Regions from separate parts of the Homo sapiens genome. Here region 1 is linked to region 2. The links come from fine-mapping of genetic effects on gene expression. Tissue or cell type: blood mononuclear cells. Region 2 holds a variant in brackets; the other region holds the start of a gene. All regions are shown on one strand. Distances are from middle to middle.

Region 1 (10,923 bases), 34 kb before region 2:
GTAAGGTTAAGAAAAGAAGTAGGATTGGTCAAGGAAGGCTTCATGAAGCAAAAAGAGTGGGTCACAAGTGGACCTTAAAGTTGCATGTCCAATAAGTAACCACTTAATTAGAGTTAAAAATTAAATTTCTCCCATTACCCTAGTCACATTTTCATTACTCAATAGCTAAATTGGCAGTACAAACATAGAGCATTTCCATCATAACAGAAGGCTCCATTGGACATCAGTGCCTTTAAGAATGGGTCTAAAATAAGCTGACAGAAAAGAAAGCAGTGGCTATCATTCTTTAGAAATCCTATCTGTCAAGCTGTATAGAATTTGTATCATTTAAATTTTACAACCCCCTATTTACAGGAAAATTGAGGCTCAGAAAAATTACATAAATTTCCTAAGGTCACCTAACTAGTAAGAGCTAGGATTTAAATTCAATTCCATCAAAACTCCATACTCTTCAATTCACCATGGTACTTCCTACAGGAAATACACAGAGCTAAAGGTTTGCTTTAAAATGTAATGCAGTGACATGCTAGCTCAGTAGGTTGGAAAGAAACTGAAGCATTTTAAATATCTCAGACAGATATGATCAAAATGTTATTTTACTCCTTCCTTGCCCTATACTTAGCTTTAACTATGTAAAATGTTTTCAGATCAGCAGGATGCAAGGTTAACTAAGAGAATGTAGACAAGAAGCAAGACATGGTGTGAAAGGTTTCTCCAGTTTTAACAATGTCTACCTTAAAACTCCTTGATCTCTCCAAACCTAAAATAAATTTTTTTAAAAAGGAAATTAAAAAAAAAACTACTTGATCTAAGTATTCTTACAGGATAATAATTATAGGTTGAAAGGAACAACTTCTCTATTAATCTCAACTCACAAACAAAACCCAGATTGCAAGAGGCCTGGTCTTTTTGTTTTGACACATAGCACAAAGCCTGGCACATAAATCCTGATGTTAAATATGTGATACCTTTCCCAATGTGTGATGCTTCCCTGCAGGATTCTAGTCATGCATGCTTCAACAAGTGTCATTCCACCATACAAAGGACATTTCGTATTTACTAAGTATTGTGCAAATGCTCCATAAACAATCAATGATCCCAGCATTTTGTTGACTGTGGGCAGTAATCACTTCAAAGTACTAGTGTTCATAGCCAAAAGGTACATTTTATATGTGTGAACAGATGCTTCATGAAGGCCTAATACAAACTACAAATTGATACTAAATCAGCAGATACTCGTGTTAAGATTTCATCACCATTCCTTTTGACTCTATTCCAATTTACTCAGTGCCACCTAGCATTATAGGATACAATGGTAACTCGAATCTCTAAGCTAGGCTTTTTAGATAGGAAAGACACACATACGTGTAATGAAGAGAACTTAAGGCAGCTTATCTTGATCAAAATTCAAGTACCAGGCTTTAGGTACCATCAGCCTTTAACCCTTTCTGTTGAGAATATCCAAATCCAAGCCCATATGATTTTCAGGGGGTCTACAGATGGGCCAGTTCTGGACTGGCACACAGGGTGCTGGACTTCCCTCCTCAGTGGATTTCATCTTCAACCTGAAACAAAATGAACACACAAAATTTTGTTCATAGGAAGTAAATACTAGACTAATAGCTTGGTATAGTTTTCCTTTAGAGATAGTTATATAAGGTACTGCTATCAGAACAGACTCCAAGTTTTATTTCCCACTCACTATCAGTTTCCTTCCTTTTTAAGGCAGAATAGTATTCCACTGTACATATGTATAATATTTGCTTTATCCATTCATCCGTTGATGGACCCTTAGGTCAATTCCGTATCTTGGCTTTTGTGAATAATGATGCAATGAACATGGGAGTATAGGTATCTCTGACATACTAGTTTTATTTCCTTTGAATATACCCAGAAATGGGATTTCTGGATTATATGGTAGTTCTATTTTTAATTTTTTGAGAAATTTCCATACTGTTTTCCATCATAGCTGCACTAATTAATATTCCCTAAAATAATAGATTTTGAAATCATACTAAACTAGATTTTAATCCTGGCTCTCTCATGTATTTGCTGTGCCCATGGGTAAGTTATGCAACTTCTCTAAACTTCAGCTGTCCCCTCTGTAAAATGAGGACAAATACTACATACCTCTTAAAACTTCCGTGAAGACTGAGGTAATAAATACATTTTGCACTGTAGCTGGCATGGAGTTAAATGTTTAATATGTTATTTCTATGTCTTGCCCAAGCTCAACCAGCTAGTGAGTAGAAAGGCAAATATTCTGCCTAAAAATTTCACACTTTTCCACAGCCATAAAAAAAAAAAAAACAAAAAACATGTCCTTTGCAGCAACTGGAGCTGCTGGATGCTGCTGGGGGCCATTATCCTAAACGAATTTATGCAAAAACAGAAAACCAAGTATTGCATGTTCTCACTTATAAGTGGGAGCTAAATCTTGCGTTGGGAGCTAAATCTTGCGTAGGGAGCTAAATACTGGGTTCACAGGAACAAAAAGTTGGGAACAATAGACACTAGGTACTCCAAAAGGAGGAAAAGAGAGAGAGGGGCAAGAGCTGAAAAACTTCCTATTGGGTACAATGTTTACTACCTAGATGGCAGGATCAATAGAAGCCCAAACCTCAGCATCATGCAATATACCCTGAAACAAACCTGCACATGTACCCCGTGAATCTACAATAAAAACAAATTTAACAACAAAAAGTCACACTTCTCACAATAACCCAGAAGCCAGAAAGGTCACTCATATAGTACTCATAAGGGCCCTTCCAACTCCAAGATATTGTGTCCTTTTTTTTTTTCACTCTTGTTGCCCAGACTGGAGTGCAATGGCGCGATCTCGGCTCACCACAACCTCCACCTCCCGGGTTCAAGCGATTCTCCTGCCTCAGCCTCCCGAGTAGCTGGGATTACAGGCATGCACCAACACGCCCGGCTAATTTTGTATTTTTAGTAGAGACGGGGTTTCTCCATGTTGATCAGGTTGGTCTCGAACTCCCGACCTCAGGTGATCCACCCTCCTCGGCCTCCCAAAGTGTTGGGGTTACAGGCGTGAGCCACCGCGCCCGGCCATATTGTCCTTCAAGCAAAAAAGACACAGGTTTGCTTCCCCCTTCCCCTCATTTCCTACTTAACAATGAAGACTCCAATGTATTATGAAGTCTTATTAACAAAAGCATGCTTCCATTGGAAAGAATGTAATGTTTTCCCAACTCACAAAACTTCCACCTAAAAAACCGGAACTAAGCCTCTTAAGACTAAAACAGCTTTGGAGAAATTCCCAAAGGCTTCCTTTTTTATTTTGCATGTTTACATCCTAAAATACATTTCAGCTTTTCCTAACTTAATACTAAAATATGCCCTCAACACCATGAGTTCAGGGGCATATCCAGCACACATTTTCTAAGTAAACACTGAAAGCATGCCCTTTCTGCCCCTGTGAATACAAAGATGACTTGGTTGTTCTGGGCCACTGCTGTCACTCCTTCCCAGCATTAAACACATGCTCATAACAAGATAAACCATCCCCACTCAAACCAAAGTGGGCAAAGATATATTCACATAAAAGCCATCAAGATGATTTTCCTTTCGGTAGAAAATCCTTTATTGCTCAATCAAGTTTAGAGTATTGATTGGTTTCTAATCACCACCGTGTACAAAATAAATATAAATAGGAAGCACTGCAAAATATCTAGAGTCCTTTTAAACAAGAATATACCAAAACCCAATTGAAATGCCTTTATGCCAACTGACTGATTTACAAGGTTATTCATTTGAGGGGGAAATATCAAGATCATAAACTATCTGAATACCTACTGATAAAAGCTAAATAAATTATAGTAGGTACATAAATTAGAATACTGAGTTACCATTATACCCTGAAAACCTACTGAAAAAATATATTTTTTAAAAAAAATAATTTTTAAAGAATACTATGTTACCATTATGAAGAATGTGAACACTCTACTCATGGAACTTAAGTGGAAAAAGTAAGACACATAGTAGAGTAGGTATAGTAAAAGGGAAGGATACCTACACATATTTGCTTATATGCATAAAATATCTTAGTAACACTGTTATGAGGGAGAGGAATTGGATGGCTTAGGGAAGGGGATAAGAAACTTTGATATCTTTTGAATTTTGAACCATGTGAATGTATTACCTATTCAAAAATATATATATATATGATGTGTATACATATATATATATATATATATATTTTTTTTTTTTTTTTTTTTTTTTTGAGACAGAGTTTCGCTCTTGTTGCCCAGGCTGGAGTGCAATGGCGCGATCTCGGCTCACCGCAACCTCCACCTCCCGGGTTCAAGCGATTCTCCTGCCTCAGCCTCCCGAGTAGCTGGGATTACAGGCATGCGCCGCCATGCCCCAAAAAATAAATTTTAACAATGCTTGAGAATTATAAAAATTATGGGAGGCCTACAAATACCTATTACTACATTCGATTAACTGGTTTATTATTTGTCTTTCTCACACTTTCTGCCTATAAGAATATCCAACACAAACATCACATTAAAATTAACATGTACCAAAAGAAAGGAATTCAGTGAAATGACATTGAAGGTCACTAAGCAAACTTTTTATGAGAAAACAGATATCCAAAATACTTGCTGTAAATAAATAAGTACTGCTTACTTCTAAAGGTACCTAACATTTATTACACACCAACTAGAGCCTAGTTTTTATATATTTTATCTGATCTTGGAAAGCTAAGCCTCGGAATGGCTCACTGCTTCTCCCAAGGTCACCAGAGCTGTAAACTGTGGCGCTGGAATTTAAATCTAGAGGCTTGCCCTGAACTAAGGTCCCTAATCTTTTTCCATAGCTTTTAAGGACACAATCACCACAGTGGCAACATTAAAAATTAGGAGCTCCTTTTAAGGCTTATCTGTCTTCAGAGTTTGCTGCCCAGGTTCACCAAGAAAGCCGAAATGATCTGAGCGAAGGCCAGGAGAAAGACAAGGTACGCTGCAGCTTCCACAAACCCAGTAAGGACCTGGGCCCTCTAGACACTCACCGGAGAATTAAACTCTACTGAGCTGAACGCCTTCTCCCGAAATCTGACCTCACCCAGGGAGATATAAATCAAAACAGCATTAGGATGATAATATCTTTCCCGCCAAGCAAAATGAAGCCGGCGTTTTCCAAGAACACACGCACTGTGCACATGAAGCACAGTCTATTGTTCCTGGGTCACCAGGACTCGGAGACGGAAGGCAAACCCAGTACTGCAGAGGCCCACGTGGAAACAAGCCAGGAAGAGCATTTCACTGCCTTCTCCCAACCTCCACACAGCCGAAATTAATCTCCTTGCGACTCACACACACTCCTATGCCGACTTGAAATAAAGGCCTGCCACCTGGGTATATAACTCAAATGGAAGAGAAATTCAAAACAATTAGAGAGCAAAATTAAGCGCACACTCACCAGCCCACCAAAACGGAGAGGGAAAGAAAGTGGAGAGACAGGAAGTCGCCTTGGGAAGTGTCTTCAGAACCTGATTGGCTAATGAGTTCAAGAGGATTCCCTCCTCCTTTACCTTAAAAGGTGCTGAAATGACGTAACCCACTCCACCCCTCTTTATGGACCAGTGATGCTTCTTGCACTATTTTTGGAGTGAACTTCTTAAACCGAGTTTCCTTTTGAGTTAATGTACTTAGGCAAAAACAGGCTAATTTAAGCTATTTATACACGTTGTTGTTTGCGTGGGCCTACTGCATTCTATTCTAAAGAATTTTCATCCCTTAAGGGTAATTTCTTATCCTTTGTGACCTCAACATGCTTAACTTATGCTAGGCAACAGATTCCATTATAAACAGTCTAGATCGATTCAAGTTAAAATTTACCTTCATTTTTTCCCCCCAGATCCAAAGCTGGCCTGATAAAATTTACCTTCAGGTAATCTTTGAACTAACAGGCTTAGTAGATAAAAGGTAGGTGGGTTAAGTGTTTTAGGCTTCAAATAAAATTTAGCTGATTTTGAATCTGAACCTTGCCACTTATTTGCACACATCTAAGCCTCAGTTCCAACTATAAAAAGAGGGAAAAAAGATGAAATCTTCCTACTCTGATGGTTATGAGGATTAAGTAAAATAATTTATATAATGTACTCAGTACAATGCCCGGTACACAGTACTCAACAATGTTAGCTGTTATTATTGTTATTACATATTTCTTGTTAGATTTATATTCCCAAGTAGACTATAAACAACTGGAGATCAAAGTGTACGTTTTACACATCTCCAGACAAAAACAATGACTTTCAATGCTGAGGACATAATTGATTAATCAATTATTTTGACTCCTCACATCGCCCTCCAGTTAAAGTATAGGTTCTTACTCTGTTAAATTTTTTTTTTTTTTGAAACAGGGTCTCACTTCGTGTCCCAGGCTGGAGTGCAGTGGTGAAATCTCGACTCACTGTAGCCTTGACCTCCCAGGTTCAAGCGATCTCCTGCCTCAGTAAGTAGCTGGGACTACAGGCGTGCACCATCACACCCAGCTAATTTTTGTATTTTTTTGTAGAGATGGGGTTTCGCCATGTTGCCCAAGCTGAAAGATTTCTTTTTAAGCCATAATTAGAGGACTCCCCGGCACAATATTCATCATTATTCTTAATAAATACTATTATAGTAATAGGGAATATATATACAAGTATGTGTTATATGTACAAATATACATGTAATGTGCAAATGTTTGAAGTATAAAGATTCAAGTTATATGGAGAAATGATACAACTCTAACTCATAGTAGTTCTCATTTTTTAATCATTTCATCCTATCCACCCTGCTTCCACCTTACTAGAAATTACCTATTCCAATCCACTTTAGAGTTTACCTGCCCCAAATTTCCCAACATTTAGCATCAAATGCTAATTTGTTATTTCATAATTGATTTATTGTAACTTCTAGAGTCAAAACATTTCTTGAATGTTTACTATAAATATTCAAGAAATGTAATATTCATTACCTTGTTTAATCTTCACATTAACCCAAGAATGTAAGCACTTTCATTATAACTATTTCACCAAAAAAAAAAAAAAAAAAAAGGAAACAGAGTTATAGAGATTAAGGAATTTGTCTATTTAGCAAGTGGTAAAGTCAGGATTCAGATCCCAGTTGCTATGGTTTGACTGTCCCCTTCAAAATTCATGTTGTCACTCTAGTTTCTCTTCATATCGCATAAATCTTTCACCTTTTACAAAATTCATGTTGAAACTTAATCCCTAAAGTGGCTGAAACTTAATCCTCATTAGAAGTGGGGCCTTCAAGAGGTGACTGGATCATGAGGGTTCTGCCCTCATAAATAAATTAATCTATTCATGGATTAATAGGTTATCATGGGAGGGGAACTAGTGGCTTTAAAGAAAAGGCAAAGAGACTTAAGGATAGCATGTTAGCAGTCTCAGCATCCTGGCCATGTGATTTCCTGCCACGCCTTGGAACATCACAGCGAGTCCCCTCCAGCAAGAAGGAGTTCAGATGCAACCCAGAGGCAGTCCTTAACCTTGGACTTCACAGCATCCATAACTGCAAAAAATAAATTTCTTTTTTAAAATAAATTACCCCACAGCCTAGCCAACATGGCAAAACCTCGTCTCTACTAAAAATACAAAAATTAGCTGAGCATGGTGGTATGGGCTTGTAGTCCCAGCTACTCAGGAAGCTGAGGTGGGAGGATCGATCACTTGAACCCGGGAGGCGGAGGTTGCAGTGAACCAAGATTGTGCCACTGCAGTCCAGCCTGAGTGACAGAGTGAGGCCCTGTCTCAAAAACTAACTAAATAAATAAATAAACCAGGCTTGGTGTGATGGCTTAGACCTGTAATCCTAGCACTTTGGGAGGCCGAAGCAGGTGGATCTCTTGAAGCCAGGAGTTCGAGACCAGCCTGGCCAACATGTCGAAACCCCATCTCTACTAAAAATACAAAAAATTAGCCAGGCATGGTGGTGCACACCTGTAATCCCAGCTACTTGGGAGGCCGAGGCAGGAGAATCGCTTGAACTAATGAGGTGTAGGTTTGGAGTACCGCTATACTCCAGCCTGGGAGACAGAGCAAGACTTTGTATCCAAAAAATAAATTAATTAAAAAACAAACTAATAAATAAGTGACCCAGTTTCAGGTATTCTGTTATAAGCAACAGAAAACAAACTGAGACAGCAGCCATCCAACTTGACAGCCCAAACTCAACCACCACATTGCACTGCTTCCTATATTGTGTGATTTCAGAAAACCTTAGAAAGTACAATATTCTTTTCAAATTCCCATTAAATATCTAACATTTCTTTATGATATTCTGTATTCCAGGCTTTAATACTTATAATAATCCATGATGAAATTCTCTTCAGCTGGTAACATCAAAATTTTGTGCTCTGTAAAATAACTTTGAAATTGTTTAAAAGTCGATAGATTCCTGGGGCCAGGTGTGGTAGGTCACATCTGTAGTCCCAATACTTGGTAGGTGGAGGCAGAAGGAGCGCTTGAGCCCAAGAGTTTGAGGGCAGCCTGGGCAGCATGGTAAAACAACTGTCTCTACAAACAATAAAAATAAAAAATTGCCAAGAGTGGTGATGCCTCTATAGTCCCAGCTACTAAGGTAGGCTGAGTCGGGAAGAGAGCATGAGCCCAGAAGGTAGAGGTTGTAGTGAGCTGTGTTTACACCACTGCACTCTAGCCTGGGCAACAGAGTGAGACCCTGTTTCAAAAAAAAGTAGATTCCTGGGACACACGTTCAGAGATTCTAATTCAGTGGGTGGGACTCAGGAATATGTATTTTAATAAGCACCCTCAGGTACTTCCGGTAGATTTGAGGCTCACCCTTTGGAGAACACCAACTGAATGACTATCGTTTAAGGATGTTATCACTGAAAGGGTGGTGGGGTTGAGGGATAAGGACTACATGCTGAGTACAGTGTACACTGCTCTGGTGATGGGCGCACTAAAATCTCAGAAATCACCAGTAACCAAACACCACCTGCTCCCCAAAAACCTATTGAAATAAAAAATAAATTTAAAAAAAGGAAAAAAGGGATGTTATCACTGCTGAAGTGAGTAAACTCTTGGAAAAGGCAGCACTCTAAAAATTTCATTTATAATTTATTCAAAATGAAGAATTGAGAATGGCCATTTGTCTGTAATTAAAAATTAAGCATCTCCTTTGCAAGTTTACATTTGGTTATCCACCCTGGAGAACTATTGTGCTCAAATGGGCATGTTCAAGGAAGGATGTTCCTTGTAGCACTGGTTATGACAGCAAAACAATTAGAAACACCCATGTCTATTCAAAGATCATTAAATCATGATACAACTATTCCTTGGCGGCAGGGGTGGTTAATGGGTACAAAAAAATCGTTAGAAAGAATGAATAAAACCTACTATTTGATAGCACAATAGGGTGACTATAGTCAATAATGACTTAATTGTACATTTTAAAATAACTGAAAGACTGTCCATGGATAAAGGTTTCAGGGGATGGATACCCCATTCTCCAGGATGTGTTTATTTCACATTGCACATAAAACATCTCATGTGCTGGGTGCGGCGGCTCACGCCTGTAATCCCAGCACTTTGGGAGGCCAAGGCGGGTGGATCACGAGGTCAAGAGTTCAAGACCAGCATGACCAACATGGTGAAACCCTATCTCTACTAAAATATACAAAAATTAGCCGGGCATGGTGGTGTGCGCCTGTAATCCCAGCTACTCAGGAGGCTGAGGCAGGAGAATCGCTTGAACCACGGAGGCGGAGGTTGCAGTGAGATGAGATCGCACCATTGCACTCCAGCCTGGGTGACAGAGCGAGACTCAGTCTCAAATAAATAAGTAAATAAATAAATATCTCATATACCCCATAAATTTATACACCTATTATGTACCCACAACATTTTTTAAATGATACAACCATTCTATGAGATACTACCCAGTAGTTAAACAGAATGAAGTAAATCTGCATGTACTGACATGAAAACATCTCCAATGCATATGAAGTGAAAATAGCCAAGAATAACACCATGTAATATGCTCACATTTATGTAACACTTCTCCCCCCCCCCACAAAAAATGCAAAATAGAATAATTCTGTATGTGCACATTTTTGCAAGTAAATGAAAAGAAAATAGTCTGGAAAGAGACACACCAAACTGCTAACAAGTTACTCCAAGGAGAAGGATTGAGGGAATTAAGGGAGGAGCTTTTTGGTTTTGAATATCTGCAATGTTTTACGAGAAGAATGTGTTCGTGTTTAAAAAATAAAACAGTACCTCTCCACAAAATAAGGGTAGAGATCCAAGAGTAGGTTTCAATTTAGAGGGGAGAAGAGAAAAGTAGGAGACCCCAACCCCCTAAGGCAGCAAAGGACAGGCTTCAAAGGCTAAATGGACACCACATTGAATGCCTATCCCCCAAGTTGAACCTAGGACTCCAGAGATTGGGCCTTCTACATGTTCAACACCTCCTACCCCAACTCTGAGCTACTACTTTCCCCCTTTTAATACGTCTCAGAACTCTCTCCATTTTAAATTAATATCTCTTGAGGATCCTTTCCTTCCAAAGTTGTAGCAAAGTAGAAGGTTCTCATCAACATCCCTTTCCTAGCTATTCCTGAAGACATGTATGCAAATTCCTTTAAATGGTGGTCCTGATCCGCAGCTTTGCTGATCACTTTTGGAAAATTGGCAAATAATAAATTTGGAAATTTGTTTATAACATCAGGCAATATAATATATAAATAAATATAAATAAGTTTGGAAACATATTTATAACATCAGGCAATATAATAAACCATACTTGTGGAATTTCAAAGCTTTTAAAATCTTACTAGTTTCCTTCAATTACTGATCTTTTTGATTCTGAATTTCTTTTTTAAACAACTCTCAAGATCCACCTCTTTGAATAAGGTAGGAAAGAG
Region 2 (10,923 bases):
ACCAATAAATGGATAAACAAAATGTGGTTTATTCCTGTTAGATATGTTAACTATCTTGACCGTGGTAATAATTTTATTAATATATATATATGTCAAGCTTTATCGAATTGTGTATTTTAAATATGTGTGGTTTATTGCATGCCAATCATAACTCAATAAAGCTGTAAAAACATAAAAAGTATATCCATCCAATGCAATATTATTCCGTCATAAAATGGAATGAAGTACTGATACTGCATGGATGAACCTTGAAAACATTATTCTAATTGAAAGAAGCCACACAGGTCACATATTATATGATTCCATTTATCCGAAATGTCCAGACTAGGCAAATTCATAGATACAGAAAGTAGATTAGTGGTTGCCAGTGGCTGGAGGAAGAGAGAGGGGAGTGATTGCTAATGGAGTCAAGGTTTCTTGGTGGGGTGATTAAAATGTTCCAGGATTAGCGGTAATGGTTGCATAATTTGTGAATATACTAAGAACCACAGAACCGTACACTTCATAAGGGTGAAAATGAATTACAGGCCAGGCACGGTGGCTTACGCCTGTAATCCCAGCATTTTGGGAGGCCAGGGCGGGTGAATCACTTGAGGCCAGGAGTTCAAGACCAGCCCGGCCAACATGGTGAAACCCTGTCTCTACTAAAAATACAAAAATTAGCCGGGCGTGATGGCACATGCCTGTAATCCCAGCTAGTCAGGAGGCTGAAGCAGGAGAATCGCTTGAACCCAGGAGGCGGAGGTTGCAGTGAGTCAAGATCACACCACTGTACTCCAGCCTGGGCAACAGAGTAAGACCCTGTCTCAAAAAAACCAGACAAACAAACAAACAACAACAAAAAGAAAATGAATTATATCACAATAAAAATATACCAAGTTTTTGTAATATAAATATATATATATATATAGGGGGATCACTTGAACCCAGGAGTTTGAGAGTACAGTGAGCTCTGATCATGTCACTGCACTCCAGCCTGGGTGACAGAGCAAGATCCAGTCTCAAAAAAAGAAAGGAAATCAGAAATAATTTCAATAACTAAATGTCAAAGGGAAATAGAAAGTATCAGGGAAAATGGAGGTGAATAGAAAATCATGATTAGAAAACCGCACTAATAATACTGCAGTCAAGATCCATGGATGAATGCTAAGATTAGTCGGGAAAATGATATTTGCATAGCCTCAAAAAACCTACCTCCAGATGTATAAATTTCTTTGATACCTCTCTCTTCTAGAGGTTTTCTTTCCTTCCCCTTGAGTATGGGCTGGACTTAGTGACCCGCTTCTAACAGAAGGTATGGCAAAAATACCTGGCAAATATCACTTTAACTTTAAAAGTGATCAAGGTTAACACCACCAGTTATAAGTTATGTTAATATCATATGCACCCAATAGGATGCAGTATGAAGGCACATCATCTCTTGAATTCATCCATTAAATCCATAATCTCAGCCTATTCATGAAAAAACAGAAAACAAAACCAAACTGAAGAACATTCTACGACATTCTTCACTCTTGTTGCCTAGGCTGGAGTGCAGTGATGTGATACTCGGGAGGCTGGGGCAGGAGGATCACTGAGCCCTAGAGACATGGGTTGCGGTGAGCTGTGATTGCACCACCACGCTCCAGCTTGGGCAACAGACTGAGACCCTGTCTCAAGAATAAATAAATAAATAAATAAATTTATTTTTTAAAAGTGTCAAGATTTTGAAAAGACTGAAAATCTGTCACAGTTGGAGGAGACTGAGAAAACGCAATGACTAAATGCAATGTGGGATCCTGGATTGGCTTCTGGAACAAAACAAAGTCGTTAGCGGAAAAATTGGGCAAATCCAAATCCTGACTGTAATTTAATTAACATTTTTAAATTAACTTACTGGTAATTTAATTAACAAATGTTAATTTCCTAGTTTTGATAAATGTAGCATGGTTATGTAAGATGTTAACATTAGAAGAAGCTGGGTGAAGGGTATCGAGGAACACTTTGTACTATCTTTGCAACTCTTCTGTAAATCTTACATTTTTTTTTATTTTTTAGAGACGGAATTTTGCTCTTGTTGCTGAGGCTGGAGTGCAATGGTGTGATCTCAGCTCACTGCAACCTCCGCCTCCCGAGTTCAAGCGATTCTACTGCCTCAGCCCCCAGAGTAGCTGGGATTACAGGTGCATGCCACCACGCCCAGCTAATTTTTATATTTTTAATAGAGACAGGGTTTCACCATGCTGGCCAGACTGGTCTTGAACCCCTGACCTCAGGTGATCTGCTCTCCTCAGCCTCCCAAAGTGCTGGGATTACAGGCTTGAGCCACTGCGCCCAGCCTAAATCTTACATTATTAAAAAAGAAGGATTAAGAGCCATTCTAGTGGGAAAGCACCAACACAGATATGTTCTTTGGGGATGTCATCTGTGTATTGGCTCCTGGTTCTTCTTTCAGACACATCGTAGGATACTTCCTCCCCATCCCTTGACATTAGGTATGGCCACGTGACTTGCTTTGCTTGTATTTATTAAATATGAGTGGAAGTGATGTGTTTTATTTCCAAGTGGAAGATTGAAGAGTTACTCGCCACGTGAAGCACAGAGCTCAAAATATGCGCAAAGTAGAGCAGGGCCTTCTCGCTGACCCTTAACGGGCCATGTGGCATGATTTAGAAATAAATCTTTGCTATTTTAAGTTGTTGAGATTTTGGGGTTGTTATGATAGCATAACTTTAATATTTTAACTGATAAAGAAACATACCCATCGTTCTGGATGAGAAGATTAGGTATTTGGAGGGTGGGAGGAGGGAGAAGATCAAGAAAAACAACTAATGGGTACTAGGCTTAATACCCGGGTGATGAAATAAACTGTACAACAAACCTCCATGACACAAGTTTACCTATGTAACAGACCTGCACTTGTACCCCTGAACTTAGAAAGAATACGAGTTTCACATTTTTTTGAAAACTAAAAAATTCGGTCCAGATTTTCTGATTGATTAAATATATACTAATAAATAAGACATTTATGAGAAAGAATAATGAGGTGATACTCGTACTGCTAGGTAACAAAAAGAACAGTCAAGTTAGCACTTATTGAATACTTACCACAAAAGTGTCACTGTTCTGTGTTTTACACCTTAACTCATTTAGTCCTTAAAACACTCCCATGAAGTAAGCACCATTATTATGGCTGTTGTACAAATGGGGGAAAGGAGGCATGAAGATTTGAACTCAGGCAGTCTTATTCCAAGTCCATGCTTTTTGCTGCTGTTACCCAGTCTCTCTAGAGTAGTGCTTCTCAAACCTTCTGAGATGAAGGACTAATTGTTCCTTTGTCTTTCTTTCTTCCTTCCTGCCTCCCTCCCGCCCTCCCTCTCTCTTTCTTGCTTTCTTTTTTTTCTTTTTTTTTTTTTTTTGACCAAGTTTCATTCTTGTTGCCCAGCCTGGAGTGCAATGATGCGATCTCGGCTCACTGCAACCTCTGCCCCCTGAGTTCAAGCGATTCTCCTGCCTCAGCCCCCCAAGTAGCTGGGATTACAGGTGCCTGCCACCATGCCCAGCTAATTTTTTGTATTTTTAGTAGAGACGGGGTTTCACCATATTGGCCAGGCTCGCCTCGAACTCCAGACCCCAGGTGATCCACCCGCCTTGGCCTTTCAAAGTGCTGGGATTATAGGCGTGAGCCACCGTGCCTGGCCTGTTTTAATTTCTTATCTGTCACGGAATAATACTTTTATAAAATATAATCAAAATGGATTATTAAGAAAATGAAATTAAAAAGCACACAAAATACAAGCCTCCATTTTTATTATTAAATTTGTCAGATATTACTTTTTAAATTCCTACACAGTTTCTAAATGGTTACTCTCAACTTCCGTACTTATCTCATTATAAAACATTAACAATTTGTGAACTGGCACTAGTCCATGAACCAAACTTTGAGTACCTCTGCTCTAGATTTCAAAAACAGATGTGGATATATGTGTAAAAATTTGGTATATAAAAAAGATGCTTTTCTAGATGGGTAGAAGAAAAGATTGTTCAAATGTCCTATGGTCTCACAATCCAGTGGTTATAACTGTAAAACTCATCCAGCCTTTGGGAGACACTGAAACTCCATTTAAAGATAAGAACTTGAAGGATGTTTAATGTAAACCTAAATTGATTTTCCCTTCAACTCCTTTTGGGTACATAATTACTTTTACCTAGAAGCTGTTCTTGACTTTACTCATAACAATTATACCATGACCTCACTGTCCTTCTCCAAGATGAAACAAAAAACCCTTCAAGTGGGCCTGGCCAACAAGACTGAATCTATTGAGCCTATTGGTCAAGTTAGCCTTTGCTTAACTTTCCCCAACCCCTTCACTCCAGCCTTAGCTGGGATGCTTTTATATAATTTTCAGAGCATGGAAGAGAGACAAATAGAGCTTCCTCCTGCAATTGGCCCAAGATTTTAGGGGAGCAAAAGGCAAAAGATTGAAATCAATGACTAGGATGATGCCATGCCATAGTTCGCTGCAGGATTTCTGGCAAGGATTATGGATCATAAATTTCAAAATACCATAACTAGGACTTCTAGTCACAAGGTAGATGTGGAAATGATGGTCCAGAAGGTATATTTCGAGGCTTGGCATGAGGCACATAAGAGAAGACAGAAGCATGGCCTATCAGCGGATGTCATCATCCTCTGGTCAGGATGGAAACCAGGGCATTGGATAGAAATAAAGTCCCTCAGGTTATTTCTCCATGTAAAACCTGGAATCAGGGTACAGTGAGAGTAAAACTCAGTGCCCTTTAACTCCCCAAGTCTTCAAAACTCATTTCTAGACCAGGGTGTAGTGGTATTTCTCCAAGAGAAACCTACCAAACCAGGACAAAATCCCTGTAATAGCCTTCACTTATCTCCTACAAGTCCTTGAATTCTTGGCCACAGAAGACATTTCCTTCTTCTTTAACCCTCAGAAAGAAAGGGCCTGAGGAAACTAAAGTCAGTGGTTTCAATCTTTTGCCTTTTGCTCTCCTAAAAGCATGGGCCAAGGGCAGGAGGAAGCTCTAGTTGTCTGTCTCCCATGCTCTGAAAATTCTACAAAACACCCCAGCTAAGGCTGGAGTAACAGAGGAGGAAAGTTAAGCAAAGGCTA[A/G]CCTGCTCAATAGATTCTTCCATATGATTGAATTTTAGAAATATAATAAAGTTCTTTTATGGGCCGGGCACAATGGCTCACGCCTGTAATCCCAGAACTTTAAGAGGCTGAGGTGTGCAGATAACCTGAGGTCAGGAGTTTGAGACCCACCTGGCCAACATGGTGAAACTTCGTCTCTACTGAAATACAAAAATTAGCTGGGCGTGGTGGTGGGCACCTGTAATCCCAGCTACTCGGGAGGCTAAGGCAGGAGAATCGCTTGAACCCAGGAAGCAGAGGTTGCACTGAGCTGAGATTGCACCATTGCACTCCAGCCTAGGTGACAGAGCCAGACTCTATCTCAAAAACAAAAAAAAAAAAAAAAGGTTTTTTACTTAAGAAAATCAGAGTTCATGGCTATGATTGTGCCACCTCTCAATTAGTTTTAATCTTTGTGAATTTCAATTTGAGAGAGAGTAAGACACTTTCGTGATCTCTTCTGAGAATGCCAATTACCATATTGACTAAAGTTGAAAGTCGTGTCAGAAGTTGGGAAAACCAGAAGGTTTGTTCCGCTTTCAATGGCTTGGCTCCTCACCTCTCATCTGGGTAGTTCTTTTTTTTTTTTTTTAGACAGAGTCTCGCTCTGTTGCCCAGGCTGGAGTGCAGTGGTGTCTCGGCTCACTGCAAGCTCCGCCTCCTGGGTTCACGCCATTCTCCTGCCTCAGCCTCCCAAGTAGCTGGGACTACAGGTGCCCGCCGCCACACCTGGCTAACTTTTTGTATTTTTTAGTAGAGACAGGGTTTCACTATGTTAGCCAGGATGGTCTTGATCTCCTGACCTCGTGATCTGCCCACCTCGGCCTCCCAAAGTGCTGGGATTACAAGCGTGAGCCACCATGCCCGGCCTCCTCTGGGTAGTTCTGAGAAAAGGGCTGTCTCTGTGACAGAAACATAGCTCTTTCTAAATGCCCTGATGCATGACTGACTTATTCTCCCTCCCTCATTCTTTCCCGATGAACTGAAAGGTCTTCCATGCTCTGTTCAAATTGAATGTTGGCCAACATCACTCTCATTCCTCCTCCTGGCAAGAATGGCATCCTAGGGTCCTAGGGCCCGCGAGTGATGCAAGAATTCTAAAACCTAGTTTCAAAAGAGTACCTACTAAAGATTTCATTCACTTTCTTGTGGTTCTAGTAAGGATTAATGTTGAATAAGAAGAGACACACATTAGAATGTACATATACATACACATAGAATATCCTCCTGTTCTAAATCCACATGAGAACACAGGCAGGCCTACACTTGAGATTTTTTGACACTTCATTTTTATAATTATCAAGAAATTATTAATTTTATAATTATTAAAAGCTACCAGTGTCTTCAGGCTTTGCATCTCTAGCACAAGGGGTATCATTATTCCCGAGTGGCACATCTTCATTCCCAATTCAGAAAGTACACATTGCCCTGCACGTCTCCCACGGCAAGCTGCAGGGTGGAGTTAGCGCCCAGCCAAGGTTCCAGGCAGCTCACTGACCCTTCGCATCGGAACAGGCCCAGCTACGATGGGAACAAAAATAGGGGAGGTCAGGGCTACAAGCCTCCTTACTAACTTATTTTTTCTCACATTAATGCCTTTTATTTAGAAACAGGTTAGTCATACATTGCAAGTGATTGAAGAAAACAGAATTTTGATCTTTTGCCCTTTCTTACTCTAAGTTTGCTGTCTTGTGACATCCCTTTGGGATAGGTGTGCAGGCGCACGCACACACACACACACACACACACACACACTTACCAGCTGCATACTGGGTCTCTCCCATAGCTTAACATCTCTGTCCTTCGAAGCTGTCACCAGCAACTCAGGTAGCACATGGAGGGCTGTGACAGAGCCCGAGTGAATCTCAAAGAGGAAAGGGGAGAGCAGAATGGTGAGTTCTCAGGGGCCCCTCCTCAGAGAAGCATCACAATGTGCTGTGTCAGACCTACAGCCCTCCTCCCTTAGTATTTCTTTTTTTTTTTTTTGAGACAAGAGTCTCGCTCTGTCGCCCAGGCTGGAGTGCAGTGGCGCAATCTCGGCTCACCGCAAGCTCTGCCTCCCGGGTTCACACCATTCTCCTGCCTCAGACTCCCGAGTAGCTGGGACTACAGGCACCCGCCACCACGCCCAGCTAATTTTTTGTATTTTTTAGTAGAGATGGGGTTTCACCGTGTTAGCCAGGATGGTCTTGATCTCCTGACCTCATTATCTGCCCGCCTAGGCCTCCCAAAGTGCTGGGATTATAGGTGTGAGCCACTGCTCCCAGCCCTCCCCTAGTATTTCTGACCCTTCCTTCAAACTCACCTTTCTACGCTGCCGTGTCTTTAGATGTGGTGTTGGCTCACTATCCATGCTGGCATCACTATCCATGCTGGCATCAGATTCCCTGCAGGTAGATGGGTCTGTCCCTGGAGTTTGGGTTTCTGGAGTGTTTGCTTTTTTCTGCCACATGTTACCTGTGGTCCATTCTCCTTCTGGGCTGCATTTGGCCAGGTTCCATAGGATCCCATCAGAGCTGGCACACAAAAATGAGGACTCTGCCATTTTAAGGACAGAATTAGAGCCAAGTCTCAGGGATCTGCCATCCACCCTGGGCCATCTCCCGGCTCCTCAGGTCCTCCTGTTACCACTCACCAGATTCAGGTTTGGCTTGAGTTATCGATATTAGGGTCCTACTAGGATTCTCTAAGTTTATATCAAAGTTCAGCCTCTCTTCAAACTCTCCTGATTCCTTTTGCCTCTGTGAAAGAATAGGTAATTTTGTTTAGCCTACCCATATGAGTCAACTTGTACCAGACAAAACAACAGTTTTCTGCTCTGGGCTGGTCAGGAATTTTTTTTTTTTTTAACTACAACTTAGATACAATCAAGTGCGCAAATTTTTTTTTTTTTGAGACGGAGTCTCACTCTGTCGCCCAGGCTGGAGTGCAGTGGCGTGATCTCGGTTCACTGCAACCTCTGCCTCCTGGGTTCAAGCGATTATCCTGCCTCAGCCTCCCAAGTAGCTGGGAACACCGGCGTGCGCCACCACACCCAGCTGATTTTTTTATTTTTAGTAAAGATGGGGTTTCACCATGTGGGCCAGGCTGGTCTCGAACTCCTGGCCTCAGGTGATCCACTGGCCTTGGCCTCCCAAAGTGCTGGGATTACAGGCGTGAGCCACTACACCTGGGTAAGTGCACAAATCTTAAATGTACATCGGCGATGTATTTTTACATGTGCATCCACCCATGCAGTCACCCGACAGATCAAGATGTAGAGCATTTCCATCACCTCAGAAAATTGCCCTTATGTCCCTTTCCCATCAATACCAGACCATCACCACAAAAGCTAAAAATATTCTAATGTCTGTCAACTGAAATTAGTCTTGCTTGTTCTTGAAACTTCATTTAGGTGAAATCATATAGTATGTACTCCTTTGTAACTGGCTTCCTTTGCCCAGAATAATGTCTACGAGGTATGTCTGTATTATTCCATTCATCAGCATGCAGTATCACATTAATTTTTTTGCCATGTAGTATTCCATTGTATAGATATACCACAAATTATTTATCCCCTTTCTATTTATTAATATTTAGCTATGATGAATAAAGCTGCTATGAAGATTCTTGTACCCGGCTTTGCAGAATGTATGTACTCCTTTCTCTTAGGTATATATTTAGGAGTGGAATCACTGGGTCAAGCATAGGCTTTAGTAGATAACTTTAGTGGGTAGCAGGTCAGGATTTAATAACCTTCCCAATAACAAGCGGCTCCCAGGAAACTGCATTTGAAGTGAACAGCTAGCTTTGGCACACTCAATCCAAAAAGTGTTGAACATCTATTAAGTAACTGCTAAGTATGATGACAAAAACAAGATGGAGTCCTTGCCCTCAAGATGCTATTATTCATAGGGGCAAGACAAGAGAGACACGGGAAAAAATGCAATTGAGAAAACTTCTAGGTTTATGGTTTCCTATGGCTTTCTAAAACGGTAGAGTCCTTTCTTGTACCAGTGAAATCTTACATGGGAACCCAATACACAATGTCCTAAATTAGAACTGCTCCAGTTGAAGGAGGATAAGAGGATTTGCAGCCAACTGCCTTTCCCTTCCCTATCCTCCATGACGGGCCCCAAGGTGTAAAAACACTGGTCCTAGACGAATGTTTGCTTTAGCACACACTCAAATAGGACTTACCAAGAAAGAAAGAACTCCAGGATCCTTGGGCTGCAGGACAAATATGCCATACTCCTTGTGGGTGGACAATATCATAGGATTTTCTGTATAGCTGCTCCTGGTTTGTGAGAAAGGAATAGGTTGAGCTCAGGATTTAAAGAGAGGTAAAGAGAAGAACACCTCTCTTTAAGACTCCAGAGTTTTCTTCTAAGTTAGACTCAACCTCAGGATAACCACTAACTCAGGTTTCCTTTTTCCCCAGCTCAGGAGGAAATGGCATTTTGGATCTTACCAGATTTCAGATGGAGCATCCCCTGGCTTCATGCAAAGTAACTTCAAATCTGCTTTGGCCAAGATGAGAAAGTGACCATCAGGAGCCCAATCCAGACTTGTCAGCACCCCTAAGTCCTCCTGTAGAATTCGGTTCAGGTGAAGACTAGCTCAAAAAAGTACATGGACAGAGAAAGATCCTATTTTAGTTAACCTTTCTCAGGCTCCTCAATCCCACATGAATTCCTCAGGAATGAAGTACAAAGCAAAATGTATCACCTTCCCTGAAAATCCTGTTCCACTTTCTGGTTTTTGTTTTTTAACATTAGTATTCATCGGTGCCATCCCATTACTTGCTCAAACTAGGAATCTCTAACATTCTTGGCTTTTCCTTCCCTCTCTACCTCCAACTCACCAGTAAGGCCTGTGGATGCAACACATGCCTAAATCCGTATCTCCCCTTCTCATCTCCACAGCCCAGGTCAGGCCCACATTACGTCTTTCCTAGGCTATAGCTACAGGTGTAAATGTGGTCTCCTTACCTTTAGTATCTCTCTACTACCATCCATCTTCCATACTGCCACCAGTTCTCTTTATAAAATCCAGATAATTATTCCACCCAAAATTCTTAGCACTGTGCCCTCTACAGCCTGACCCCAGTTTATCTATTCAATTCCATTTCCCTTACTCCCACCAGGAATCCAAGGAGCTGGCTATACCCAGAATATACTACATACTCTCAACATCTCCATATCTTCTGTACATGTTCCTTCCTCTTCCTGAAACACTGTTCCCTTCTCTTACTGGTCCAGAAAACTCCTACTCATTCTGTAAGTGTCCAACCTTAAATACCAACTCCTTCCCACAATTTCTCAAATTTTGAAGCCCCAGGAATATGTGTGTGTGTGTGTGTATGTGTGTGTGTGTGTGTGTGTGTGTGTGTGTGTATCTTCATTATAGCACTAGTCAGTCTGAATAGTGCTGCTGGTTTAAATATATGCACATTCCTCTACTGTGAGCTTCCTTAATTAAAGGATGAATTTCATCTGTAACTGGTTCATACTGCCTGGCCCAGAGCTTGGCATCAAGTAGGCACCTGAGAATTATTCATTTACATTGCCATGGACAGAAGCAGAAAATAATGTCCCACTCAGTAACTAACATCCAATTGACCTAGTTCAGAAGCAGAAGTGCAGTAATTTGGGTAAAATGCCAGGAGTGAGGAGACTGCTGTTTCTATCCCATTAACCCATCAGCCTGTTTCACCTCAAATTTCCGGGTGCCGAACCCTTCCGCAGTTTCACTTGCCACTCGCTGATTTTCTCATCAGCACTGAGGACAAAAAAGGTGT

The links. PIP is the estimated chance that this variant, and not a neighbour inherited with it, causes the effect. A credible set is the group of variants that fine-mapping cannot tell apart.
Region 1: CCNB1IP1 starts here. The variant in region 2 is the best candidate, but not a certain one, in a credible set for the expression of CCNB1IP1 in blood mononuclear cells (TOPMed, PIP 0.71).

What each region holds. Positions count from the first base shown.
Region 1 is chr14:20,327,809-20,338,731 of GRCh38, forward strand. CCNB1IP1 (cyclin B1 interacting protein 1) reads right to left here and starts at 5,471. Exons shown (of 7, transcript NM_021178.5): 1 at 5,446-5,471; 2 at 1,366-1,565. RefSeq lists an enhancer at 5,241-5,550.
Region 2 is chr14:20,361,895-20,372,817 of GRCh38, forward strand. It overlaps TEP1 (telomerase associated protein 1), which reads right to left. Exons shown (of 55, transcript NM_007110.5): 49 at 10,839-10,923; 50 at 9,595-9,738; 51 at 9,324-9,420; 52 at 7,780-7,885; 53 at 7,450-7,682; 54 at 6,904-7,008; 55 at 3,773-6,665. The coding sequence ends at 6,543. Among named protein-coding and RNA genes, the nearest start is that of PARP2, 24 kb to the left of the region's middle. The variant A/G (reference allele first, on the strand shown) is at 5,127.